7 linked regions of the Homo sapiens genome follow. The protein of the gene in region 7 interacts with the protein of the main gene of each other region in a pairwise test. Each region holds a gene or a part of one and is shown on either strand. Other genes may lie near its edges. The genes, in order: DTX2, CCER1, BCL6B, CCDC33, PGLS, DEPP1 and PLSCR1.

Region 1 (3,500 bases), on a different chromosome or scaffold from region 7:
CCAGGCACATGTGCCGGGTTGAGAAGCTTTGTTCTTCTAGTGGGGGCGCAGTGGCTGGCCTGGCCGCCCTTCACCCCTGAGTCACGCCATCTGTTCCTGGATGGGGAGTGGGGTCCAGGAGGACTGGGATTTCTACCAACTCCCCCGGCAGCCGGCTGTGCCCAGCTCCTGAGCCAGGTTCTGCAGACCCTGGAAGCCACCTTAAGAGATGGCTAAGAAGCTCTAGGCTTCCCCTTTCTCTGGAGAGGAGGTGCTTTTGACCTAACTGACCGATGACAGGGAGGACCGGGGAGCTGGCACTATGGAAAGTGGGGTAGGCCGAGGGTGTGGCAGGAACGGGTTCGTCCAGCAGGACACGCTGTGTCCCAGGAAGCGCTGGGTCATCAGGGAGCACGAAGGAAGCAGTGTCAGAGGAGAGTCCCCCAGGGCAAGTGTGGGGTTCCCTGCAGGCATCCGGCAGTGGTGAGCTCTGGAAAGAGTGGCCGGTCTGTCCCAGCATAGCTGCTGGCCACAGGCCCACCCTTGCCCGAGGGCGCCAGAGCCACAGCCTGGGGCCTTGCTGCAGCCCAGCCCTCACAGTATGGGGATGCTGCAGTGTGGGAGCAGGCCCAGGGGCCACGTTCCTGCCCGCCTACCCCAGCGCTGTCGCTGAAGGCCCTGGCACCCAGATCAGCCAGGAGGGGCATGGAGCACACACAGCACCCAGTGGAGGCTGGAGGCCTAGTAACTCCAAGCCAGGAGGGCCCAGGGCCTCCTGGGGAAGCTGAGCCCTTGGAGCCAGCCCCACCCAGGAGACCCCGTGCCCCGGGCGGCTTCCTGGAGTGGCGTCCTCCGCCCTCTGCTCTCCTGAAGTCACGGGTCCTGCCCCGGTGCCCACCTGCACACTGAGGGCACGGGCTTGTCTGTTGCTCCTATAGAAACCTGTGGGCTCTGGGGCCAGGGCTACCATGAGCCAGGCTGCCCCACCCTCTGATTCCTGGCCTGGGTAGTCCCCAGGGAGACCTGTGCGTCCCCGTGGCCATTGATGGTGTCACATCCTTGGCCTGAGCAGGGTTTGTTGGCGTCACATGCCGAAGGAGTCTTCTAATGTCTCTCCCTCTCTGCGTGTCTGCTCTCACACCCGTGCAGGCATGACGAGTGTTCTGATGTCAGCCATTGGACTCCCTGTGTGTCTTAGCCGCGCACCCCAGCCCACCAGCCCTCCCGCCTCCCGTCTGGCTTCCAAAAGTCACGGCTCAGTTAAGAGATTGAGGAAAATGTCCGTGAAAGGTAGTTCTTGTTCCCAAAAGCTCTCTGGCCTTTGCTAAGCCTCCTTCCGGCCTCGCTGCCTCTGACTCTTCTGCACAGACCCTCTTCCTTCTCTCTGCTCCCTGACTCCTGGGGGAAGGGGCTCAGTGGCCCTTCTCCCTGCCCCCGCTCGGCAGCAGAGGCGGCCCCTGGAAGCTGACTTTCCACCGCAGCCCCAGAGTTCAGCTCCTCTCCTCCAGTCACAGCTGGCATGAGGGGGCTTGTTCTTGAGGACTTTGTGATTTTTGTAAGCAACAAGTTGTGGGTGAGAGGCGGCGCCCGGCTCAGGATGCGGGGACAACCGTCCCTTCCGCCAGGGCCAGCACGTGTCTCGGGAAAGGCCCCCAGACAGCGGCCCAGGTCTGCTGCCCAGGTCTGCTGCCCTGACCCCCAGCCCTGTGTGGCCGCCACGTGGGCTGCTTGAGAGGGGTCCCTCGGTGACCCCTGCCCTGCTCGTTGCATGGCCACAGAAGAAGGGGCTTTAGGACCACAGCAGGTCCAGGGAGTTACAGCAAGACCTGCTCGGAGCAGCCTGTGATGGTCAAGTTCTGAACCTTTCCCAAGCGGGTGCTGGCCCTGCTTCCACCCCTGGGCTGTGGAAGTGTGGACTGTGGCCAGTCCAGACGCTCTTGAGTGGGCGTGGTGGCGGGCAGGGAGGGTGGCCGTGGCCCTGCTGGCCCTCAGTGTCTGTGTCATCTCAGCAGGTCCTCTCGGAGCCTCCGCTTAGCAGAGGGGCTTGGCGAGGTCTAGGAAATACTCGAAGCGCCTGGCATGCGGCAAGGGTGGCTTCCGATCGTGTCCGACCTCCAGCCCACAGGCGAGGAGGTGGGCTCAGGGAGGGGTGGGCCTCGAGCTCCTGCCCCCAGCCCAGGGCTCTGCACGCCCTGCCCTTCCCCTGCCCTGGGGGAGGAGCCAGACTCGTTGGCAGCCCGGGCTGGCAACCTTCTGTGGCACTCGGGTTTACCTGGGAAGGACACGCTCTTGGTGGGTCGCCTGGCTGGCCCCTTCTGAGACACGTGGCTAATGGAAAGCTCCCTTCTGCTCTGAAAAGCTGCAAGGGCTGGGGTGGGTGGGCGGGGGTGGGATGCTGTGCCCGGCCTCACCAGGGCTGGGCAGAGGCGAGGCCCAGGCTCACCCGGAGATGGCTCTGGAGTTGGCAGGCTTTTCCAAAGGAAAAGGCCCCCCTCAGCCTGAGTAGGGCATTCCAGCCACACGGAGGGCGACCCTGAGCTGGGGGCCATCGTTCTGGTCTGGCGTTCTCGCCACCGTGACAGGATTTGGGTTCGGGCAGTCTGTATGGGTGTGTGGAGGTGTGGGGTGTGTGGGGTGTGTAGAGGTGAGGGTGTGTGGGGTGTGTGGAGGTGAGGGTGTGTGGGGTGTGTGGAGGTGTGGGGTGTATGGAGGTGTGGAGTGTGTGTGGAGTGTGTGTGGAGGTGTGGGGTGTATGGAGGTGGGTGTGTGGGGTGTATGGAGGTGTGAGGTGTGTGGAGGGGTGAGGTGTGTAGGGTGTGTAGAAGTGTGGGGTGTGTGAGGTGGGGTGTGAGGTGTGTGGAGGTGGGTGTGTGGAGCTGTGTGTGGTGTGTGGAGGTGTGAGGTGTGTGGAGGTGTGGGGTGTGTGGAGCTGTGTGGGGTGTATGGAGGTGTAGGGTGTGAGGAGGTGTGGAGGTGTGGGGTGTGTGGATGGGGGTTGGGGGGTGTGGTCTTGCCAGCAGTTTCCCTCCAGGTCACAGCAGCCATGCCATCACAGCAATTCCAGCTTGGTTACATATTCGTCTTTCCCGTTTGAGATCAGGGAACCGAGGCTCAGAGGTGGCATGATTCGTTCACAGCAAGAGAACTAGAATTAAACAAACCGTGCCGACTCCAGCCTCCACCCCACCACGCCACCTCCCTGCCAAACTGTCCCCTCCCTGGCCCTTTTTGGTGTAAAGGGAGTTCAGCAGGTGCAGTTGTGAGCCCTCAGGCTTAGAATTCTCTGCAGCCCCTGAAGGCCGTGAGCTTGGATTCAAACCAGAGCCCCTTCTGGTCCTGGAGTCTGGGACGACCGCAGCCCCACCATGACCTTGGGGTGGAGCCCCTGTCAGGAGCGCCTCCACGGGTGGCACTGGGCTCCCCGTCCCTCTTTCACCCCCGCACGGGCTTGGCTGCTGGCTTCTGTGGTTCTGCTACTCCCACTACCTAGAGAACGCCCCGGGCCGCGCCGATCCTCACCA
Region 2 (4,143 bases), on a different chromosome or scaffold from region 7:
AGGCATGTTTAAATTCATCATCTAGGGATATTCTGGAAATATGCTATGGATGGAACTTTTATCAACTGTCCAGGAAGAAATGTATTATTACTTCCTAAAAATGTTTGAACAAAAGCTATTACTTTGAATGATGTATTCTCCATAGGTAATTGCTGTTTAGACATCAGAAACTAGCTCACACAGACTCACACTTACACATCTTTGTTTTACTCTTCTTTATAACAAAGACAAATTCAAAAACAAAATAAGATATTCCACCCCCAAAAGGTAGATAATCTTTTTATCTAAAAAAAAAAATCCATTCTGGAAAACTATTTTTATGGCTCCTCAGAACTTAGGATAAAGACTATATCCAATAACGAGGCTTCAAAACCTAAGCCATGTTCCACTGTTTGCAGTTACCTTGGACTTTAACTAGATGTGCAAGTTGACTTCTGACCATGGGGAATCCTCTCCATGACTGGATTATGGATTGTTGAGGCCATGGCAGATAACCAGTTCCACAGAAGCAACTTCATGTTCTTCTGAGGAAGATCCATAGCACTGTGGAACAAGGAATATCAATAAGCGATGACACAAGAGCCTGCAAATGAGGTTAACAAAATATAACCCTCAAAAATGAACTCTGATGGTGGAAAAATCTATGAGGAAAAATATTGTTGAAAAAATACAGGGATTGAAAATGGCTTCAGTTATGTTAAGAGCACTGGTGAACATTTAGTAGCGTTAGAATGTGCTTCTTACGCATGTAATAAACTATCTCTTGATTCCAAGCTCATTAAGTGGCCAAGTTGTATAAATTTGTTTCAAAAACAAACGCTTTTTCAGCATTGCCAGATTTAAAAAAACAACAGCAACTCTGTTTTCTAGAGGGGAAAACACCAAATGAAAATATTCAAATGGTAGTAATAAAATACTTGGCCTTTAATCAGTTCCAGTAAAATTATATTTGAAAGCTTCCCCACCACCCACCCATAGTCATACACATACGCATCAAATTTTAAACATTTTATAATGGCCAAAGAAGGTGTTTACATAGATCTGTTTATTAATGGAACTCACTTTTTAATCAGTTTTTAATAAATTGCTAATCCAGTTTAGCCTCAAATCAGTTCCATCCCTTTTCTCAATCCCTTTTCTGATGTCTAACAGTTAAAGTCCTGTGCCATGAACAGGGATTCCTGTGGCACTTTGGGAATTATCTGCTCTGGGTTTAAAAAAGTGCAGCTTATAAAGTTCTCTCTCTTTTCTTCAGCCTCTACGAAGATTGATAAAGGCATTTCCAGAGGCAAGTGAAATTCTTCCCCTCTCTGCTCGTTCTCCTCCAGGACCTCCTCTTCCTCTTCCAGCTCCTCCTCTTCCAGCTCCTCCTCTCCCTCCTCCACATATTCAGCCTCTTCGACCTCTTCTTCCTCCTCATCTTCGACCTCTTCCTCCTCATCTTCGACCTCTTCTTCCTCCTCGCTCGCCTCCTTTGCATCACACACCTCCTGGTCATACTCCTCCTCATCATCATTTTTCTTCTCCTCCTCTTCTTCCACCAGCAGCGGGGCAAGAGACTGGTTTTCCTCTGGGTTGGGACTGAATGCTAGAGAGGGATTCTGCACAAAGCCATACAGAGTTTCCTGCAGTCCCCAGGTTTCCTTGCTGCCGCCAGGGGGCGCGTCGTTTCCGGAGGATCTGGCTGGGGAGGCCTCGCCGCTCACCGTGGCCTTCTGCGCCCGCAGCGCCTCCTGCTGACGCTCCACCTTCTCCTGCTGCCTCATGTCCTCGTAGATCTGGTTCATGATGAATTGGGTGGTGTTGGGCGGCGCTCGCATGCCAGGCTCTCTCCACTCATACAGCTTGACCGGCCGCGGCAGCGTGCTCACATCCGCTGGCGGGCTCCGCGGGTAGGAGTGGCGAGGGTGGTGGCGCAGGCCGCGGCCTCTGCGGCCCCAGCGCTTCTTCCTGCCTGGGGGCTTCACCCAGCCAGGGTTCCAGGACCCGCTCCAGCAGGAGCAGCAGCAAAAGCAGAGAGGGTGCAGGCCATACACCCGAAACACTTGCACCGGGCAGGGGAATTTCCAGAATCCTGGAGGGGGTGGGCGCCAGGGCCCTCCCCAGCACCCCCAGTTAGAGCACACGGGTGGTTGGAACCAAAAGCCCGGGCCGTGCTGTTGCTTCGGCTGCTTCCTTGGGGGCCCATACTCGGTCTTGGGGCTATATCGGTGCGGTCTATTGTACGCTGGAGCACCCGGGCGCCTTCGATGGCAGGACGACCAGGAGCTCAAGGAGGCCGAGTGTGCCCAGCCACAGCCACAGCCGCCGCCGCCACCGCCGCCCAGGTTCAGAGGGTCTTCCCTTGTGTCGAGGGTCTGAGTCATGGTTCAGGGAGCTCCGAGAGGTCCAGATGGTAGCGACCTGAAGCTGTCGTCAAGTTTTGCCAGGTAGGACGGTCAGAAGAGCCTCGTCTCGTCAACCTGTCTCTCCACGCAGCGCCACGTGTCTACCCCTGGGATCACGTTTTCCTCTCCAGGAGGCTGCTCTCTTCCTGGTTTGCACGCTCTTCGGTAGTAATCGCTTGTCCTTCGCACCTGGGTTGTCTCGCCCAGGTGTGCTGGGTGGGACTGGGGCTGGGTAAGGATGGTGGGGGAGGAAGGTGTTGGCAGGCGACACGCAGTGAGACCCACTCCCGGGTCCCCACCACACCCGGCTCTGCTGAGGCACGGGCTGGGGCCGGGGGAGGCAGGGGTTGCGCAGTTACCTGCTGCTCCCTCTCAACCCAGGTGCTTCACTGTCGCCGTCCTGGCAGGACTGTGGTGGCGAGGGCAGCGGCAGCCTTTAAATACTGGCTGTGGTCTCCCGCGTGCCCACTGCGTTCTTGGTCACCCAGGGCAACAGCCAATTGGGGTCGAAATCGTCCTCCCTGTGTGCAAGGCCGGGTTCTGTCCGGAACCAGGCTCCAGGTGAACATTCGCAGGGGGCTTGTGACGCAGCGTTTGGGGGAGGTGAAGAGGGGTCCAGGCTGGGTTTCTGCTGCTCAATTCAAGCAAGTCTGGAGGCAGTTTATCCGAAAGCTTTGTATCACCTTGAGGCGGGGGTTTAGAAGATGGGCCTTCATCTGAACCCGGTGGGGGCGGGAGAACTTGAGTTTTGAAAACCCCACATTCTACACCTTTGGAGGGCCTAAGGGATCATGGAAAATTACTGGAGAAAGGAAACTTTGCCCAACCTCTTACCTTCTGGCCGGTGCCAACTCTTCTTACTCCTGAGAATTGGGATTCATAATACATAAAACAAGACCACGAACATTTATTATTGCATGTGCTCACTGACAAATAATCCTGTCATCTACCCTGAGAGGTAGGCGTATCTTATCACCTGTCACAGATGAGGGAACTGAGAGCTTAATTTCCCCATGGTTGTGGGGCTAATAAATTTCCAGGCTACGATTTAAGCCTAAACCTGTTTGACCCAAAAGTTAGGTTCCTAATGACATTGCTATGTGTTCTACCAAACCCCCAGTAGGACCCTTGTGATAACTAAATGACATAACATTTGGGAAGGTACTTTGCTATTGGTAATATACCGTACATGTGTACCTCAATTAAACAAATATTATTATTACCATAATGAATACCACAGGTTTGTCCTTGGGAAGAGGAATATTCTGATTGTCTTTCCTTTTGTCCCTTCACTGACCATACAGCATATACACGGGAAGCCTTTAAAGCATTGTGGTTAAGCATATGGGTTTTAATTTAAATAAATGGGATTCAACTTCAACTCACCAATTATTAATCTCTGTAAGCCTCAGTTTCCTTACCCATACCATGATTATACTACCTTTTCCATACGGTTGTGTAAAGAATTAAATGCATATAACAGGTCCTCTAATATTAATGTTTTGCTCAATGTCATTTCCTTATAACGTTGCTGAGGCAAAACAACAACAATAACAAAACCACGTTTCATTATATGTCTTCTCATTTAAAAGTAGCAGTTTCCAAGAACCTATGATGCTAAGTGAGGACTTACTGTAATTCCTTCAAGTACTTAGTGCAGGTACCCTGTAAGTACTCAGTAACTGTTAACTATCATCCTTATTTGTAAATACTTCATGACTTCTAAAAGAGATGATATAGTATATGTAAAGGCACT
Region 3 (4,095 bases), on a different chromosome or scaffold from region 7:
TAGCTGGGACTACAGGCACGTGCCACCACACCCAGCTACTTTTTGTATTTTTAGTAGAGACGAGGTTTCACCATGTTGGCCAGGATGGTCTCCATCTCTTGACCTTGTGATCCGACCGCCTCGGCCTCCCAAAGTGCTGGGATTACAGTCGTGAGCCACCGTACCTGGCCCCCACCACTGCTATTGAAGAGGAGATTAGCTGAGTACTCGAGTCAGACAGATGTGCAGTCAGATCTGGCTCATCTTACTATCTTCTTACTTGGCCTTGAGCAAGTCAAACCAGCCCCAGAAGTCTTAACAATAAATTGGGAAACAGAAAGCCTGCTACTGTGTGGTTTGAGGATTCAGTAGTACCTAGATAGCCCTCATTAATAACTATGGTTGCCGTCACCCATTCCCCTTCCCAGGAAGTGAATTTTTCAGCTGCCAGAACTGTGAGGCTGTGGCAGGGTGCTCATCGGGGCTGGACTCCTTGGTTCCTGGGGACGAAGACAAACCCTATAAGTGTCAGCTGTGCCGGTCTTCGTTCCGCTACAAGGGCAACCTTGCCAGTCATCGTACAGTGCACACAGGTAGGGGAAGAGAGGGCCCTGGCCTTCAAGCCCACAGCTGTCCTAGGGCAAAGTCCCTGATCTCCCATGTTCTCTGCCTCCAGGGGAAAAGCCTTACCACTGCTCAATCTGCGGAGCCCGTTTTAACCGGCCAGCAAACCTGAAAACGCACAGCCGCATCCATTCGGGAGAGAAGCCGTATAAGTGTGAGACGTGCGGCTCGCGCTTTGTACAGGTACGGAGCCAGCCTCCAAGTGGCTTCCAAGGCAAACCTGCAAGAGGTGGGGTGGGCCAATAGGGAGGGTTCTGTTCCTCCCAGAGGCAGGACTTGAAGTCTCCTCCCTCCCAGGTGGCACATCTGCGGGCGCACGTGCTGATCCACACCGGGGAGAAGCCCTACCCTTGCCCTACCTGCGGAACCCGCTTCCGCCACCTGCAGACCCTCAAGAGCCACGTTCGCATCCACACCGGAGAGAAGCCTTACCACGTGGGTACCCAACCTGGCCTGCCCACTGCCTTAGAATTACCTCTCCTTTGCCTAGGGGTGGGCTCTGAGAGGTGCGGGCCTGGCTGTCCCTAGATCTCTTAGAAATGAGCGGTGGCCGGAAGAGTCCAAGCAAATAAGGGGTGGAGGCTGGGAGTCAGGATGGGCAGGTATAGAAGTGATGCTCCTGGGCTGAGCACTGTTTTCTCAGAGAGGAGCTGAGAAGTGGGAAAACCTTTGCTAAATAAGGCGGGGCCTATCCCCTCAGCCACCCCTGAGGATTTGGGAGGATGTGAGAGTCAAAGAGCTGATCTTCCGCTGGATAGTTCCCACCTGGGAGAGCTGGACGGCCGCCCGGCTCAACACCTAAAAGGTGATTGTGGATGGGGCAGGGCCTGACTTGGCTGTCCTCCCACAGTGCGACCCCTGTGGCCTGCATTTCCGGCACAAGAGTCAACTGCGGCTGCATCTGCGCCAGAAACACGGAGCTGCTACCAACACCAAAGTGCACTACCACATTCTCGGGGGGCCCTAGCTGAGCGCAGGCCCAGGCCCCACTTGCTTCCTGCGGGTGGGAAAGCTGCAGGCCCAGGCCTTGCTTCCCTATCAGGCTTGGGCATAGGGGTGTGCCAGGCCACTTTGGTATCAGAAATTGCCACCCTCTTAATTTCTCACTGGGGAGAGCAGGGGTGGCAGATCCTGGCTAGATCTGCCTCTGTTTTGCTGGTCAAAACCTCTTCCCCACAAGCCAGATTGTTTCTGAGGAGAGAGCTAGCTAGGGGCTGGGAAAGGGGAGAGATTGGAGTCCTGGTCTCCCTAAGGGAATAGCCCTCCACCTGTGGCCCCCATTGCATTCAGTTTATCTGTAAATATAATTTATTGAGGCCTTTGGGTGGCACCGGGGCCTTCATTCGATTGCATTTCCCACTCCCCTCTTCCACAAGTGTGATTAAAAGTGACCAGAAACACAGAAGGTGAGATCACAGCTCTGCTGGCAGAGATTACTAGCCCTTGGCTCTCTCGTTTGGCTTGGGTATTTTATATTATTTCTGTCATAACTTTTATCTTTAGAATTGTTCTTTCTCCTGTTTGTTTGCTTGTTAGTTTGTTTAAAATGGAAAAAGGGGTTCTCTGTGTTCTGCCCCTGTAATTCTAGGTCTGGAACCTTTATTTGTTCTAGGGCAGCTCTGGGAACATGCGGGATTGTGGAATTGGGTCAGGAACCCTCTCTGGTATTCTGGATGTTGTAGGTTCTCTAGCAGTCTAGAAATGGATACAGACATTTCTCTGTTCTTCAAGGGTGATAGGAACCATTATGTTGAGCCCAAAATGGAAGTAATAATAAATGCCTCCTGGAGGCTGTGGGTGTGGGGGATTCTGTATCTGGATTCCGTATCACTCCAAGTGGAGGCTGGCAGGTTTTTCTGCAAGATGGTCCAGAATCTAAAATGTCCCATTAATCTGGTCACTTGGGTTTGGCTCTGCTGTATCCATCTATAGTGGTAGAGACCCACCAGGGCTCAAGTGGAGTCCATCATCCTCCCACGGGGGCCTGTTCTTAGCACTGAGTTGATCGCTCCATGGGGGAGAGATCAGACATTCCTTATCAGAGATGATGTGACCTTTTCTGACTCTGCCCAGTCTCTATGAATGTTATGGCCTAGGGAAGAATCATGAAACTCTTTAGCTTGATTAGATGGTAAACAGTGTTAACCCATCCTTTACTACAGAGGCATATGGGTTTGAATGTTACCTGGGGTTCTCTCTATTGAGTTGAGCCCCTTCTTCCTTTAGTGGGTTTTGGACATCTTCTGGCAAGTGTCCAGATGCCAGAACCTTCTTTTCCTCTAGAAGGGATGGTGCTTGGTAACCTTACCTTTTAAAAGCTGGGTCTGTGACCTGGTCTTCCCATCCCTGCATTCCTGTCTGGAACCAGTGAATGCATTAGAACCTTCCATAGGAAAAGAAAAGGGGCTGAGTTCCATTCTGGGTTTGCTGTAGTTTGGTTGGGATTATTGTTGGCATTACAGATGTAAAAGATTGACTAGCCCATAGGCCAAAGGCCTGTTCTAGTTGACCAAGTTTCAAGTAGGATTAAGAGGTTGGTTGAGGGGTGCAGTTTCTGGTGTAGGCCAGGTAGGTAGAAAGTGAGGAACAGGGTTGCCTCTTGGCTGGGTGGAGTCTCTGAAATGTTAGAAGAAGCGCTGAAGCCTTGATTGATAGTTCTGCCCCTTGTTGCCCTGGGGCTTATCTGATTATGGGACGAGGGTAGAAAGTAAGAAGCACTTTTGAATTTGTGGGGTAGAACTTCAACAATAAGTCAGTTCTAGTGGCTGTCGCCTGGGGACTAGTGAGAAAGCTACTCTTCTCCCTCTTCCCTCTTTCTCCCCATGGCCCCACTGCAGAATTAAAGAAGGAAGAAGGGAAGGCGGAGGAGTCTATAAGAAGGAATCATGATTTCTATTTAGCAGATTGGATGGGCAGGTGGAGAATGCCTGGGGGTAGAAATGTTAGATCTTGCAACATCAGATCCTTGGAATAAAGAAGCCTCTCTGTGCTGCCTGCTGTGTCCTGGGTTCTTGCCTTGGGGGACTCGGGGAGCGAGGAAGAGAGCTCTTCCTCCTGGATAACATCTTGGATTCTGTACCATTCCACTGTCCCTTCCCACCAGACATTTTAAATGGTCCTCGTTGTCCCCTTCCCTGCCCTTGCCTTCCTGCTCATTGTGTAGGAACCAGTGACTTCATGAAGTTTCTCCGGAGCCACCTGCATCCTGCTGCTCTGAAGTCACTTCCTGCCTGAGGTGTGGAGGCTGCAGGGAGAAACCAGGAAGCCACTAATAATATCAAGAGGCCGGGGCGTGCATCTGTGCTGGAGATCTTAATGCTGGCGACATGCCTCCATCACCAAGGAAGATGGATAAGAGTTGGGTCCCGTAAAGACCACAGGGGCTGGAGGTGGCACTGAGAAGACTGAGTTAGAACTAACGGGCCAGCCCACCCTCCCCCAGCAAGGGTATCTTGAATCTATCCAGGGTCCAGTGCATGCATCTCTCCCACC
Region 4 (3,500 bases), on a different chromosome or scaffold from region 7:
CCACTCCTGCTTTGTAACCTCCTGCTGGGACCCCGCTCGGCTCTCTGAAAGCTGCGCCAATAGAAGCCTGGAGTAGAGGAGAGGGCAGTCAGGACTGGGAGGCAGGGAAGCCTTTAGGGGGTGACAGAGGACTGAGGAGGGAACAACCAAGGGCGGTCAGGGGAGTGACAACCGGGATCTGATGAAGAAAGAGGAGCCCAGAGATGCGGATGCTATGATCCTGTTCCAAACCAGTACTTCCTGGGGAAACCAGCAAGGCAGGAGAGCAGGCACCAGGGTGAGCAGTGGAGCAGGCACCAGGGTGATGGGCACGAGGGAGGCAAGGGGAGCCTGGCTGTGGCCGCTGATCTCAGGAAGTTCAGCATGGTCGGAGAAACCAGACCTGGGCTTCCTGTCTTCAGTTTATAAAGTGCTCTCTCACAAACGATCTAATCAGAGACCCCTCACAGCCCTGGGAGGAGCCTCATTTGACTGACAGAAACCAAGGAGCTGGAACACCTAGCCCTACCCCTAGCCCAACCCCTCCCCAGGAGCCAGTGGAGGGGCCGAGGTTAGAACACAACCTCCCTTCCCAGGACCCAACTCTCATCGTACCCTTTCTCCCCAAAGAAACTAGTGTAAGAGATCCATTGGTAAATCCCAGGACAGAAAGCGGGAGCAGTTGCCTCAGCTCGGCAGAGAAGGCTTCCTGAGGGAGGGCAGCCTGGTGCAAAGCAAGAACCGAGTAAGGCAGGGAACAGGGAGAAGCAGGTGTCAAGTGTGGAGGCAGCCATGAGCTCACGGATGGGGAAAAAGAGGGTAGGCAGTCTGGCTGGCTGTCTCTGGAAGGTCCCAAGGCCACATGGTGTTCACCTGCCTCCTCTCCTCTCCTCTCCAGATCTTTCTCCGGGGAGTCAACGAGCCCCTGGCCAACAACCCCAACCCCATAGTGGTGATTGCCCGGGTCGTTCCCAACTACAAGGAATTTAAGTGAGTGGGGCCCAGGTGGACCTGGGTGAGGAGGGCAGAGCAGAGGGCAGAGGAGGGGGTGAGGCTGTCATTGCTGCCATGGGCTGATTCCAGGACCTCCGGCAACCCCTCTACCCCTAAGGCCCTTCAAGCCTCTCCATTGGGTCTGAGGTCCCAGTAAGCTTCCTGCAGCAGACCATGCCTTTCTTTCCCCAGGGAGAGCCCAGGCCCCTGGAAAGGGGCAGCTCAGTCCTCTCCTGAGAGCAAGCTGGAGGGCAGGTGGTGGGGATGAGTGCCGATACCAGGCCTAACAGCTAGAGAGTGTGGGGAGGACAACAAGAGGGGTCCTCATTCCCTGCTCAGGGAACCTCAGCCCCTCCAACCTGCCTCCCTGCCTCACACCCACCACCTCCCCACTCCCCCTCCCACTCTAGCTCAGGGCCACAGGCTCCAGCCAGTGGTTGGCCCCAAAGGCCATCTTGGAACTTCACAGCCTTTAGCCCTGCCGGGCGGAGTCTCCTCCCTCCTCATCCTGGAGGTCTCCCTGGTCCCAGCCACAACTCATCCCCTCCTCCCCTAGACCTCCTTTTGAGTCTGTTGGAGTCACAGTCCTCAAGAGGAGATTCATACTTTGCCACACAGTGGGAAATTCCCCTATGAACGTGTGCTCTCTGCCACAGCACCGACTCCTGGGAGTCAGGGTCTGTCTTGGTCACTTCCAACTGGCCCTGATGGCCCAAGATGACTCCCCTACTTCTCTGTATCTCCTGTTGAGTTTTTATGACTTATGAAGCCCCCTTGCTTGTTGGAGGAAGGAAGATGATTGATGCACGCCCAGCCCAGTGGTCCCCACTTGTCGTGAGGTCCAGGCCCGAACTCGGCGGGATCCCTGCAACTCCCTTCTCTTGCATCAACCCAGAGTCTAAGCGGGGGGCCCTGGGCTGCCAGGCTCAGGTGCAGAGCCCAGAGCACTGACCCTGTCTCCCTGCCTCCCCAGGGTCAGCCAGGCTAACAGGGACCTGGCCTCTGTGGGGCTGCCCATCACCCCACTGTCCTTCCCTATCCCGTCCATGATGAACTTTGACGTGCCTCGCGTCAGCCAGAACGGATGCCCTCAGGTATGTCTCCTCCCCAGTGGTTCCAGCTTCCTGTAACTACCCCACACATTCACTGTTCACTCACTCAGTGAGTCAGTCAGCAGTTCCCTTGACTATCGAGTAAGAGTTGACTGAATCCCACGGCATACCCAGTGCTGTGCTCGCCTGTGCGGCAGAGAAACTGCCCTCCAGGAACTCTTGGTCTGGTGAAGATGGGAGTCACGTGGGTGAAAAAGTTGAACATCAACACAAGATAATGTATAATCTAATAACAAACTGGGAGGGCCTGTCAGGGCTATCACATCAGAGGAGAAGATACAAAAGGACAAATATATGATTCCACTTATATGGGATACCTAGAATAGGAAAATTCAGAGTCAGAATGTAGAACAGTGGCTACAGGGGCTGGGGAAAGGGAAGAATGGGGAGTTACAGGTCATAAGTACCTAGTTTCCGTTTCAAGTGATGAAAAGTCCTGGAAATAGATAGTGGTGATGGTTACACAACAATACGAACAAATGAATGCATTTAACATTACCGAACTGTACATTAAAAATGGCTACAATGGTGAATGTTGTGTTACGTATATTTTAACCCAGTAAAAAAATTTTTTTTGAGACAGAGCCTCGCTCTTGTCTCCCAGGCTGGAGTGCAGTGGCGCAGTCTTGGCTCACTGCAACCTCTGCCTCCCGGGTTCAAGCAATTCTCCTGCCTCAGCCTCTCGAGTAGCTGGGCTTATAGGCACATGCCACCATGCCTGGCTAATTTTTATCCTTTTAGTAGAGACAGGGTTTCACCATGTCGGCCAGGCTGGTCTCGAACTCCTGACCTCAGGTGATCCACCCGCTTTGGCCTCCCAAAAGGCTGGGATTACAGGCATGAGTCACTGCGCCCAGCGAAAAATTTTTTTTAATCAGAGGAGAGGGATGTAAAGCCTGGATTAGGGAAGGCAGTCTTGAATTTTTTTTTTTTTTTTTGAGACAGAGTCTTGCTCTTGTTGCCCAGGCTGGAGTGCAGTGGCACCATCTTGGCTCACTAGCAACCTCCGCCTCCCAGGTTCAAGCAATTCTCCTGCCTCAGCCTCCCAGGTAGCTGGGATTACTGGCACCCGCCACCATGCCCGGCTAATTTTTGTATTTTCAGTAGAGATGGAGTTTCACCATGTTGGCCAGGCTGGTCTCAAACTCCTGACCTTGTGACCTGTCCACCTCGGCCTCCCAAAGTGCTGGAATTACAGGCATGAGCCACTGCACTCAGCCGGCAGTCTTGAATTTTTAACAGAGGAAGGGTTGGTACAGGTTGGACACAGCAATAGCACAAGTGTGAGGTGGAGACAGGCAGGCTATGACCCATGTCAGGGCAGACAGGAGGGCTGTGTGTTTGAGTATGAGGTTGGGGGCGGGTGCACGCACAGAACATGGCTGGGTTCAGGGGAATAGCCAGATTGGTCTCTTC
Region 5 (4,256 bases), on a different chromosome or scaffold from region 7:
TTACATTGCATCCGTAGACCAATTTGTGGAGTACTGCCATCTTAACAATATTATACTTTCCAATCCATGAACGTGGAATGTCTTACCATTTATTTAGATCATCTTTAATTTTTTTTTTCACCAAAGTTTTAGTTCTTTTGCTTGTTTCGAGACAGGGTCTCACTCTATTGCCCAGGCTGGAGTGGAATGGCAGGAACACAGCTCACTGCAGCCTTAGTCTCCTGGGCTCAAGTGATCCTCCCACCACAGCCTCCCAAGTAGCTGGGACCACAGGCAGCTGCCACCGGGTCCAGCCTTGGCTTCCCAACGTGCTGGGATTACAGCTGTGAGCCACCAAGCCCAGCTACAGCTCTCAAGAAGTACAGTCTTGTACTTCTTTTATTAAATTTATGCCTACTTTATACTTTATGATGCTATGGTAAATGGAATTGTTTTCTTAATTTGCTACTGATTTTAAAATCCACTACCTGTGTGAGTTGAACTGCGCTTACACACATCACTGAAATATCCCACTCTCAGAAGTGGCCCAGCCTCCCCAGGCCCACCAGGCCTTCTTCCCCTTCCAGCCCTCTGTCCAGGCAAGAACTCGATTGGAGGCCTTTCTGGGCACTCAGAGGGACACACCACCACACTAGGAGGGTTAGCTTAAAAAATTCAACAAGCATGGCCAGGCGCAGTGGCTTTCGCCTGAATGCTACCACTTTGGGAGGCCGAGGCAGGAAGATCGCTTGAGCCCAGGGGTTCAAGATCAGCCTAGACCATATAGCAAGAGCCCGTCCGTCCGGAAAATGTAAAAAAAAAAAAAAAAAAAATTCAACAAGCATATTTTCATCCCCTACTTTTTTTTGAGATGGAGCCTCGCTCTGTCGCCCAAGCTGGGGTGCAGTGGCACGATCTCGGCTCACTGCAACCTCCGCCACCCCGGTTCAAGCGATTCTCCTGCCTCAGCCTCCCGAGTAGCTGGGACTACAGGCGCCCGCCACTACGCCCGGTTAATTTTTTGTGTTTTCAGTAGAGACGGGGTTTCACCGTGTTAGCCAGGATGGTCTCGATCTCCTGACCTCGTGATCCGCCCGCCTCGGCCTCCCAAAGTGTTGGGATTACAGGCGTCAGCCACCGCGCCCGGCGGTGCAGGAATTTTAAAACTCACCAAAATACGCCCTCCTTCAGAAAATCCCTGCCACCTCGATAGGACGTCCTCTTCTTGAGCTCCCCTCTCCGGCCCTCCCTGATACAGCAAGGTTGAGCATTCGGGCACTGGCTTCCCGAACTCACTTCGACTCAGGCACAGCAGGCAAAGATTCAATGGGTAGGGCCGGACCGACTGCCCGACCTTCGCGGTGCTTCACTTGCCTCACTGCGCATGTGCCAAAGACAATCACCCAAAGTACTCGAAACCAAGCGGCAGGGCCGGCCCTTGCGCAGGCGTACTAGCGACGGCCGTAGGGAGCGCTTCCTCCTCCCCGCCGCCGCCCTCGCCATGGCCGCGCCGGCCCCGGGCCTCATCTCGGTGTTCTCGAGTTCCCAGGAGCTGGGTGCGGCGCTAGCGCAGCTGGTGGCCCAGCGCGCAGCATGCTGCCTGGCAGGGGCCCGCGCCCGTTTCGCGCTCGGCCTGTCGGGCGGGAGCCTCGTCTCGATGCTAGCCCGCGAGCTACCCGCCGCCGTCGCCCCTGCCGGGCCAGCTAGCTTAGCGCGCTGGACGCTGGGCTTCTGCGACGAGCGCCTCGTGCCCTTCGATCACGCCGAGAGCACGTACGGCCTCTACCGGGTGAGAGCTACGGGGGCCGCCGGGGATCACGCCGAGAGGGCCACAGCCACCGCCTACACCCCGGCTACGGAGGCCGCCGGGGGCCATGCCGAAAGGGCCGCGCCCACTGTCTGCACCTCGGCTACGGGGGCCACTGGGTATCATGCCAAGAGGGCCGTGCCCACTGCCTGCACCTCGGCTACGTGGGTCGCTGGGGGTCATGCCAAGAGGGCCGCGCCCACCGGTTGCCCTCGGCTACGGGGGCCACTGGGGGTCATGCCGAGATGGTCACGCCCACTGCCTGCACCTCGACTACGGGGGCCGCTGGGGGTCTAGCCGACAGGGCTCGCCCGCCTCCTGAACCCCGCCTACAGTGGGTCCCGCAGGACCTCACTGCGCCCTCTGCCTTTATCTAGGCAGGGCTAGAAATGGTCTACTTGCAGTCCGTCTTCCTGCTTCATCCGGTGGCCAGGCAGAGGGAACGGCACGGGCAAGGGCCTGGAAGGGAATCCGAGTGGCCCATGTCAAACGATGCCCATAACTCAGCCCCGTAGCGGACGGGGGCACGAGGAATCAGGTGTAGAGCCTGAATCTCAGGGTCCTGATCTCTAACCCCAGCGAGTTCTCGGGGATCCCTGGGCAGCTTTGCCGCTCTGATGGCTCTGCTTCCAGGCTGTTCATCTTTGGCTTTGAGCCTCAGGATTCTATAGAATCAGAGGAGCGCGCTCTTTTAAAGACAGGGTAACTGAGGCTTGGAGGAGCCTTGGCCTGGCCGAGGGAAGAGTGGGAGGGGCGGGCTCAAAGGCCAGGAACCTCAAGTCACTTGAGTCTGGCAGCGTCAAGGGACACCCCATGCTGGGTGTGCCGTCTTCTCTTTGCATAGAATCTTGAGCTGATGATGGTTTTGTGGGTTTTTTATTAAGAGAAAAGGCTTACTGAACGCTTTATATGCATCAATTCATGAGTCCGTACCACAGCCTATGAGATGTTACACTCATTTCACAGATGGAGAAACTGAGGCCAGAAGAGGTGAGCTTACCTGCCCAAGGCATCTAGTGACCAGAGGGGCAGCCAGGGTGTGATCCTGCCTCATCTGACTTCGTAGTTGGGTACACATTTAACTTCCGCCTTCCTGTGTGTGTTTTCCAAGAGCATCATTAAAAAGTTTTGGCCGGGTGCGGTGGCTCACGCGTGTAATCCCAGCACTTTGGGAGGCCGACGTGAGTAGATCACCTGAGGTCAGGATTTCGAGACCAGCCTGGCCAACATGGCAAAACTCTGTCTCTACTAAAAAAAAATACAAAAATTGGCTGGGTGCGGTGGCTCACGCTTGTAATCCCAGCACTTTGGGAGGCTGAGGCGGGCGGATCACGAGGTCAGGAGTTTGAGACCAACCTGACCAACATGGTGAAACCTGTCTCTACTAAAAATGCAAAAATTAGCCAGGTGTGGTGGTGCGCACCTGTAATCCCAGCTACTCGGGAGGCTGAGGCAGGAGTGAGGCATGATCAGTGAACCGAGATCATGCCATTACACTCCACCCTGGGCGACAGAGTGAGACTGTCTTAAAGATAAAAAAAAAAAAAAGCAGGTTTTTGGCCGGGCGTGGTGGCTCATACCTGTAATCTCAGCACTTTGGGAGGCCAAGGATGGTGGATCACCTGAGGTCAGGTGTTGGAGACCAGCCTAGCCAACATGGCAAGACCCCATCTCTACTAAAAATACAAAAATTAGCTGGGTGTGGTGGCGTGTGCCTGTAATCCCGGCTACAGGGGAGGCTGAAGCACGAGAATCGCTTGAATGTGGGAGGCAGAGGTTGCAGTGAGCTGAGATCATGCCACTGCACTCCAGCCTGGGCGACAGTTGAGACTCTGTCTCAAAATAAATAATTGTGAAATGCTGCAGAGTGCTAGGGAATAGGGAGTGAGCATTCGTCAAGGGCTATGGGGTGGGAGGTCCTGAGAAGGTGCCATTTGAGCTGAGAGCTGGAGCATGTGCAGGAGCTGGCCATGGTCAAGCTGTGGCAAGAGGGCTCAGCTAAGGCCAAAGCCGTGTGATGGGAGCAAACCTGAAGCCAGGACTTGCTCCTTCTGCCGGTTCTCTGTGAGGGGAATCATATCGGTTCCCTAGGGCTACATAACGAATGACCACAAACTGAGCGGCTTAAAGCCACAGGAATTTATTCTCTCACCGTTCTGGAGGCCAGAAGTCTGAAATCAAGGTGTTGGTGGGGTCACGCCCCATCTGAAAGCTCTTTGGGAGGATCCTTCATTTTCTCCTCATCTTCTGGGGGCTCTGGGCGTTCCTTGGCTTGGGGTCACACCATTCCAATTCCTGTCTCTGTCTGCACATGGCCTTCTTGGATTCTGTGTGTCTTCTCATCTTATATAAGGACGCCAGTCATTGGATTTAGGGCCCACACTAATCCACTATGACTTGTTCTTAACTAATTACATCTGCAAAGACCCTATTTCCTTCCTTCCTTCCCTCCTTCCCTCCCTTCCTTCCC
Region 6 (4,051 bases), on a different chromosome or scaffold from region 7:
GGCAGGCGTGTTCCAGGTGGGGCTGTGGCTGGGGCAGAGGATCTGTGGCCTGTCTGGGGAGTGCAGGAGCTTCCCAGGGGCTGCCTCTCTCATCCTTGGCAGCCTCCTTTGCTGGCATGGTCACTCCTGGACAGATGCAGTGGCTTTCTAATGTTGCCCAGGTGCTCCTTGGCAGCCCCCCAGCCCCAGCCCCAGCCCAGTCCCAGCAGCTGCAGCGATCCTTTGAAGCAGAAGCCAGACTGCAGTGCCCTTGTTCAAACCCTGCAGTCTTTCCCTCCCTCCTAGAGGGAAACACAGCATCCACCCCAAGGTCCACTGACCCCCTCCTACATGGGCCAGTCTGCAGGCCCCTTGCTGTGCCCTGAGCATGTCTGTCCGGCGCGCCCTCACCACAGGGGCTTTGCACGTGCTGCCCCTGCCACCTGGAATGTGCATTTTCCCATTTTTTTCAGGTTTCTGCTCCAATATCTGCTCTTAGGGAAGACACCCCTGACCACTGTACCTGTGGCGGCAGCCCACCACAGCATGCCACTGCGCTGCTTTCCTTCAGGCAGTTCTTGCTGTTGCCTGAATCACAGCACCCATTCATCTCTGGCTTGATCTCCTCCCTTACTAGAATATGAGCTCCAGGGGGCCACACCTTTGTCCGCTGCTACGTTTGCTGTGCTTAGTGCATTCACAGCACACACTAGCACCTCATATCTGGTGAACAAGTAAACAAACAAATCCTCCGAAAGCACCCCATCTGGGGTGTAAGAAGACCAGGGTCAGACCCCGCAGACCGCCCTTGGTCCCTTGCGAGCAGGGTGTGTCTCTCCTAGGAGCAGGCCTAGGGACCCAGCCTCAGCTGCCTCCAGACTGGGGTCCTGTGCTGCTGATTTTTCATCAAAGTTGCCAAGGACCTGGCCCAACTTCACAGGAGTCATGATGGGGTGGTGTAACACAGAGTGGGAAACAAGCTTTGGGGCAGGGGTGGCCCTGGGGCTACCTGTGAGGGCCCAGTGGAACCCCTCCCTCTCCCAGTGCCCCTACTTGACCAGCAGTGAACCCACCCCTTTCCTGCCCTGCAGCGTAAACATTCCCCAGCCTCCTACAGGCAGAAAAACACCTCCAAGCTGGCAGCTGGGCCAGGCCCCGCCCACCAAGCTGTTTTCCTAAGACAGCCTTCCGAGCAGGCTATTTTTGGCCCTCGTGACAGTGATTGATAGCTGCTGGGAAGGTATAAAAGCAGCTTGCCTGCGAAGGTTCTTCACACTGCTCAGGGAAGAGCCTGCTACGGTGGACTGTGAGACTCAGTGCACTGTCCTCCTCCCAGCGACCCCACGCTGGACCCCCTGCCGGACCCTCCACCCTTCGGCCCCCAAGCTTCCCAGGGGCTTCCTTTGGACTGGACTGTCCCTGCTCATCCATTCTCCTGCCACCCCCAGACCTCCTCAGCTCCAGGTAAGAGAGAGCAGCTGCCCTTGGGTTTGAGACAAAACACAAGGGCTTTGTTTATTTTTGAGGGCAATTCCCAGCCTGAACTTGCACAGCCTCCCTATGGGTTAGAGACCAGGGCTGTCTGTAGAGGGCTTTGCATTTATAAAGGGATTCAGGGGTTATTTCATGCATTTCCTACAACATCCCGGCCAGGGGTATTTATAACCCTGTTTTATGGATGGGTAAGTGGAGGCCTGGAGAGGTGGCCTTGCCAAAGGTCCCATGGTCAGTGCGTGGCCGATCCTGGTTTTAAACCCAGCCTTCCTCTGACCAGTGTTTGTTAGGTTAGGTTCTCTTATCTGTGCACATTCTGAAACGATAATGATAAAATCTTAAGCCTTTGGGGTTTTTAACCTGAACAGGAAGAAAAGATCCCAGCAGTCGGAGCTCTGGTCTGGGCTCTGTAGACTTCAAATTGCTCTCAGGGCACCGGATTCCTACAGGCAGCCCCAGAGGAGTGTGGTGACGCTGAGGGGCGGTGGGACGCATGGCAGGCCCTCACCACCAGGCTTCTGTTTCCCAACAGGTTGCCACCTCCTCTCGCCAGAGTGATGAGGTCCCGGCTTCTGCTCTCCGTGGCCCATCTGCCCACAATTCGGGAGACCACGGAGGAGATGCTGCTTGGGGGTCCTGGACAGGAGCCCCCACCCTCTCCTAGCCTGGATGACTACGTGAGGTCTATATCTCGACTGGCACAGCCCACCTCTGTGCTGGACAAGGCCACGGCCCAGGGCCAACCCAGGCCACCCCACAGGCCAGCCCAGGCCTGCCGGAAGGGCCGCCCTGCTGTGTCCCTGCGAGACATCACCGCACGTTTCAGTGGCCAGCAGCCCACACTGCCCATGGCTGATACTGTGGACCCCCTGGACTGGCTTTTTGGGGAGTCCCAGGAAAAGCAGCCAAGCCAGAGGGACCTGCCAAGGAGGACTGGCCCCTCTGCTGGCCTCTGGGGTCCACATAGACAGATGGACAGCAGCAAGCCCATGGGGGCCCCCAGAGGGAGGCTCTGTGAAGCCAGGATGCCTGGGCATTCCCTGGCAAGACCACCGCAGGATGGGCAGCAGAGCTCTGACCTAAGAAGCTGGACTTTTGGGCAGTCTGCCCAAGCCATGGCCTCCCGCCACCGCCCCCGCCCCAGCAGTGTCCTCAGAACACTCTACTCGCACCTCCCGGTGATCCATGAACTCTGACCCCTCCCCAGTAAAGGCTTCTGTAGAGAGCATGCTGGGTCTGCATCTCCTCTCGTCTCCTCCATGGTGGTCACTGCCCCTGGCAGGTCTCTGAAAGGGAAATGCTTTTCTGCAGAGGCCCCTGCTTGGGCAGTTCACAGTGAGACCGACCCCCTCTGAATATGATAACAGCCTGTTTCACATGAGGAGATGTTACCAATCCCGTTCGCTCTGACCCTTGCTGGCTGATCACCTTGAGCAACTTACTTAACATCTGTGTTCCTCAGTTTCTCATGGGTAATATAGGGATAATTACTGGCACCTGCCTCCCAGGCCATTCTGACGTGTAACCGCATATAGGAGCCCACTGGCTGAGTAGCTACCATCATCGCTGGTGGGGAAACTGGTGGTAGGGGTGTGAGGGTAGTGGGGGTGTCAGCCCCCCAGGTGTTTCAGAACAAGGCCTCGGGCACTCCCAAGTCTGCCTCTTGGCTCCCACCCTCAAAGCCCATGTTCTGTGAGGCCCAAGAGAACACATGGAGTCTTAGCAAATGCACTAATGTATTCCGGGGGACTGTCACCTGGCACCACTGGGGCACTCTGCTGGCTACAACTCATACGTCCTGTGGTGGCATTGGGAGAGTTCCCCCATGATGAGGGCCAAGATAGAATCTGTACCACTCAGTGCTACCATCCCCACCCCTACACCACTTCCACACAGGGGCCTCATGGCATGGTCAGGGTCCCAGCTGTGGGTGAGAGCAGGGCACTGTCCAGCTGTCCACTGGGGAAGTCAAGATGTCCTAAGGCCCAGGTCAGGGCATCTGGAGTCTGAAGGACCCTAGTTCCTAGAGGCATCTGGCAGCAAGAAGGTGAGGCATCAGGGAACGGGAATCAGGCTGGGACTGATCAGAGGTGAAGGGACAGAGAGAGGAGAGGAGGAAGATTGAGCTGGGGGCAACAGCCAAGCTCACCTGGGCAGGTCTCTGCCACCTCCTTGCTCTGTGAGCTGTCAGTCTAGGTTATTCTCTTTTTTTGTGGCTATTTTTAATTGCTTTGGATTTGTTAAATGTTTTCTGTCTTCTGTTAAGTGTGTTTTCTCTGGAGATAGAATGTAAACCATATTAAAAGGAAAAAGTTTCAGACAAGCAATTACCCAGTTTCCTTATCTATAAAATGGGGACATCAGCAATGTTCTTCACACCCTGCAAGGGCTGGGAATCTGCGCATGTGAACTTGGAGCTGCATTTATGAGCACTGTAGACAAATGTTTGTATCTGTCACAGCCCACTGTGTCTCTGTGGTGGTCTCAAACCTGCAGGTCCCTGACTTTGGGCAAACGTGTGGGGCAGCCTTTAGCCGGGGCAGCCTTTAGCCAATCATCATCCTCGGGAGAGATCCAG
Region 7 (2,964 bases):
CCTAGAAAAGATTAGCAGTTTGGAGTAAAGGCAAATACCAATAAGTAACTTGATGAAATGCCCCACGCCAAGGGTTGAGGTTGAGAGTGGATAACTAGTGGGGTGTGAATAAAAGATGAAGAGTGTATGAACAAATGAGCTCCGAAGTAGAAGTTTCCTAATTTTACAATTCTGCCTGAGGAAAGCCCAGGGCCATCATATAGGGTTGAATGGACTTTGCTCAGACTAAGGCAACTCCTCTAGGAGGGCAGGTGGGGACTGAATGTAGCTGAAATTCACAAAACTATGTACACATATAGTTGTATTAACAGAGGAGTGTCCTTTTCAGCTAAATAAATGTGGGGAATCTAAAAATACTTGACTCATTTTATTTGAGTACAAGTGGATAGTTTGTAAAATACTAGAAATAAACATCTAATATGAAGCTGATAGCATAATACTGTTCATCAAATATTCATTTCATTCCCTCTCCTTCTGTAGGGCCAGTATACTTCCTGTTCCTTCATAATTAGGCTTGGCCATGTTACTTGTTTGAACAACGGGTGTTAGCAGATATGACATGAGTAGTGTCCTTAAACTTGGCTAAGTGCTTTGGCCTGGCTTATGATCTTCAGTGACAAGCCACTAGAAAAGCATGACTCAGGTAGCTGCTGCTGCTACAGCCATAGAACAAATCTACCTGGAGCAGATTGAGGTTAACATGCGCCTAAGTCAGTGCTTAAATACATCCACTGAAACACAGTTGACCTACACACCCATAAGCATGAGTATAAACACTTATTGCAAGCTGCTGAGTTTTAGGGATTATGTGTAATGAAATACTACTGTGGTGAAATAAACTAATACAAATCCTTTCTTGTACATGTTAGTATTTTTCTGCTAATAGCTGTCATTGAAGCATTTGAAGCTAGTAATGAAAACTCTTATGTTTTATTTTTTAATTCTGAAATTTAAAAAAATGAAAAATGCAGCTGACAACTTACTAGCCACCGTAAACTCAACACTATACAGATAAAGATATTAACATTTGCCCTTTTTGATTACTACAGCAAGAAATTTAACAAAGTAGAGAATACATTTTTTATGGCAAGGATAAGAAATGCAAATAATGATCTTCAACCAATAAATTAGCAGGACTAGATAATTTTTAGCTAAATTGTAGACATTTTGGAATAGAAAATCACTATAATAAAATGTCAACATTTGGAAATAATAAATTGGTATTGTATAATGTTAAACTTTCAAATCCATGAGTGCAATACTAATTGGTAAAAGCATTCTAAAAAGAAAACCATAGATTCATCTCACAATGCAAATATAAATGCAAAATACTGAAATATAATGACAGCATATAGGATCTAGGTATGTAGCAAAGAAATATAAAAAGTGTATCATGAGTATATTAATAGTTGCTGGTAAGCTATTTTATTTACTTACTAATGATTTATTTATTTACTGTTATTACACCCAATTTTCATGTAAAAAAACTAAAGCAAAGAGAAGTGAAAGAATTTGTTAAAGTCACATAGATAAGTGTTGTGAAGATGGGTTTCAAACCTGGGCATCTGGCTCCAGTGTCTATACTCTTGACCATTAGGATTGTCTGCTTTTTAAAAACATATTTATTGAATACTAATGAAAATCTAGTTGAGAGGGCAGGAAAAAAAATCTGTGGGCTATAGTTGACCATATAAAATTTATCACTACTCAGGATCAGTTTCTATATTTTGAGATTCCTGAAACACAACAGTGGCAGGAATTCAGATTTCAAGCTCATAGACAGAGCTGACTTGGTATGTCAGTTTCATGTGGCCATATTTTTTCCCCCTACCAAGAGTCCTTGAAGGAGACAGACTCTCTTATCACCTATATTGGATAAAAGGTCTACTAGGCTCTCTCTTACTCACCATTAAGATAACCTTCTTAGAGATTCAATTACTGTCTGTTTGCTGAAAACTCTCCATTCTTTTCCTATACATAACTAAAATCCAACATGACCTTAATTCAAGTCATTAACTTCCCATATATATTTTATATAATCAACTACAGCTCATTGATTATATTTTGCTGATCCCTGACCTAGATGTGTATTAGTATTTGATACCTTACTTTTTAAAAAGCAGACTATCATAATGGTCAAGAGGACACAAATCAAGTGTTTTTCCTCCAAGATTCTTAACTTGGCCAATGTAATATCAGAATAATAACACATCAAGTTTATCTCCAAAATTTTTTTCATCCTCAATTGATATCAAATCCATGAATTAGTTCCACATAGTACACCTATGAAATGCCTCTTGAGTTATTCTCTGTTTTAGAATGACTCCTGCCCCTGCTGTGGAACAGGCTTTTATCTCTTTTATTACTTCAAGTTTCCATGCCCAGTGACACCCTGGTGGATTTCATGTTCCTTAGTGGTCCCTCATACTGATAATTTCTGCTTTGAGGTGTCAAAGTTTCCATTGTCAACTCTATGGAAAATTCTTCAAGTGACTATTTCTCAATTCTTTCCATGAGAGTACCTTGATATCATCATTCTAGATAAATAGAAGAAAAGTTAATTTATTACATGGAATGGATGCTTTAAGGTATCCATCAAGAAAGACTGCCAGATGAAACATAAATTTTTTAGTATCAAATACAAGGATTACACAATGTTTTTCCAGTGTTTTCATTTATTTACTAAAAATAAAATATATGCCAGCCAAACTTCTGTTAATATTGTTCCTTGAATGAGAAATTACTTTTCACTTCTCTGGATGTAGGACAGAGATTCCATCCCTTACATGAAGAACTGCTATTATGCATACCCTTACATAAAATTTTTATACATGCATATTATGCACACATATACATACACACATTATATAATCCCCTTATAAGAGCCTTTTTAAAGTTTCTATATCACATCCTCCTTAGAACTGCAAATCTCTGTCATTAGATTATGAAGTCAATGGGGGAAAG

What was found.
Region 1: the proteins of PLSCR1 (region 7) and DTX2 interact in a two-hybrid assay, tested with the Homo sapiens proteins (one large-scale study listed by BioGRID and IntAct).
Region 2: the proteins of PLSCR1 (region 7) and CCER1 interact in a two-hybrid assay, tested with the Homo sapiens proteins (2 studies listed by BioGRID and IntAct).
Region 3: the proteins of PLSCR1 (region 7) and BCL6B interact in a two-hybrid assay, tested with the Homo sapiens proteins (one large-scale study listed by BioGRID).
Region 4: the proteins of PLSCR1 (region 7) and CCDC33 interact in a two-hybrid assay, tested with the Homo sapiens proteins (one large-scale study listed by BioGRID and IntAct).
Region 5: the proteins of PLSCR1 (region 7) and PGLS interact in a two-hybrid assay, tested with the Homo sapiens proteins (one large-scale study listed by BioGRID).
Region 6: the proteins of PLSCR1 (region 7) and DEPP1 interact in a two-hybrid assay, tested with the Homo sapiens proteins (one large-scale study listed by BioGRID and IntAct).

What each region holds. Positions count from the first base shown.
Region 1 is NC_000007.14:76,496,209-76,499,708, forward strand, and holds part of DTX2 (probable E3 ubiquitin-protein ligase DTX2), read left to right. Parts: intron 1-1,128; coding exon 1,129-1,269; intron 1,270-3,500. UniProt on the Homo sapiens protein: Regulator of Notch signaling, a signaling pathway involved in cell-cell communications that regulates a broad spectrum of cell-fate determinations.
Region 2 is NC_000012.12:90,952,377-90,956,519, forward strand, and holds the start of CCER1 (coiled-coil domain-containing glutamate-rich protein 1), read right to left. Parts: upstream 2,801-4,143; 5' UTR 2,367-2,800; coding exon 1,146-2,366; 3' UTR 1-1,145. UniProt on the Homo sapiens protein: Regulator of histone epigenetic modifications and chromatin compaction into the sperm head, required for histone-to-protamine (HTP) transition.
Region 3 is NC_000017.11:7,026,050-7,030,144, forward strand, and holds the end of BCL6B (B-cell CLL/lymphoma 6 member B protein), read left to right. Parts: intron 1-407; coding exon 408-572; intron 573-655; coding exon 656-786; intron 787-900; coding exon 901-1,038; intron 1,039-1,453; coding exon 1,454-1,570; 3' UTR 1,571-3,595; downstream 3,596-4,095. UniProt on the Homo sapiens protein: Acts as a sequence-specific transcriptional repressor in association with BCL6. May function in a narrow stage or be related to some events in the early B-cell development.
Region 4 is NC_000015.10:74,270,826-74,274,325, forward strand, and holds part of CCDC33 (coiled-coil domain-containing protein 33), read left to right. Parts: intron 1-877; coding exon 878-969; intron 970-1,945; coding exon 1,946-2,066; intron 2,067-3,500.
Region 5 is NC_000019.10:17,510,193-17,514,448, forward strand, and holds the start of PGLS (6-phosphogluconolactonase), read left to right. Parts: upstream 1-1,456; 5' UTR 1,457-1,480; coding exon 1,481-1,768; intron 1,769-4,256. UniProt on the Homo sapiens protein: Hydrolysis of 6-phosphogluconolactone to 6-phosphogluconate.
Region 6 is NC_000010.11:44,976,010-44,980,060, reverse strand, and holds DEPP1 (protein DEPP1), read left to right. Parts: upstream 1-1,251; 5' UTR 1,252-1,443; intron 1,444-2,005; 5' UTR 2,006-2,030; coding exon 2,031-2,669; 3' UTR 2,670-3,933; downstream 3,934-4,051. UniProt on the Homo sapiens protein: Acts as a critical modulator of FOXO3-induced autophagy via increased cellular ROS.
Region 7 is NC_000003.12:146,517,644-146,520,607, forward strand, and holds part of PLSCR1 (phospholipid scramblase 1), read right to left. Parts: intron 1-2,964. UniProt on the Homo sapiens protein: Catalyzes calcium-induced ATP-independent rapid bidirectional and non-specific movement of phospholipids (lipid scrambling or lipid flip-flop) between the inner and outer leaflet of the plasma membrane resulting in collapse of the phospholipid asymmetry which leads to phosphatidylserine externalization on the cell surface.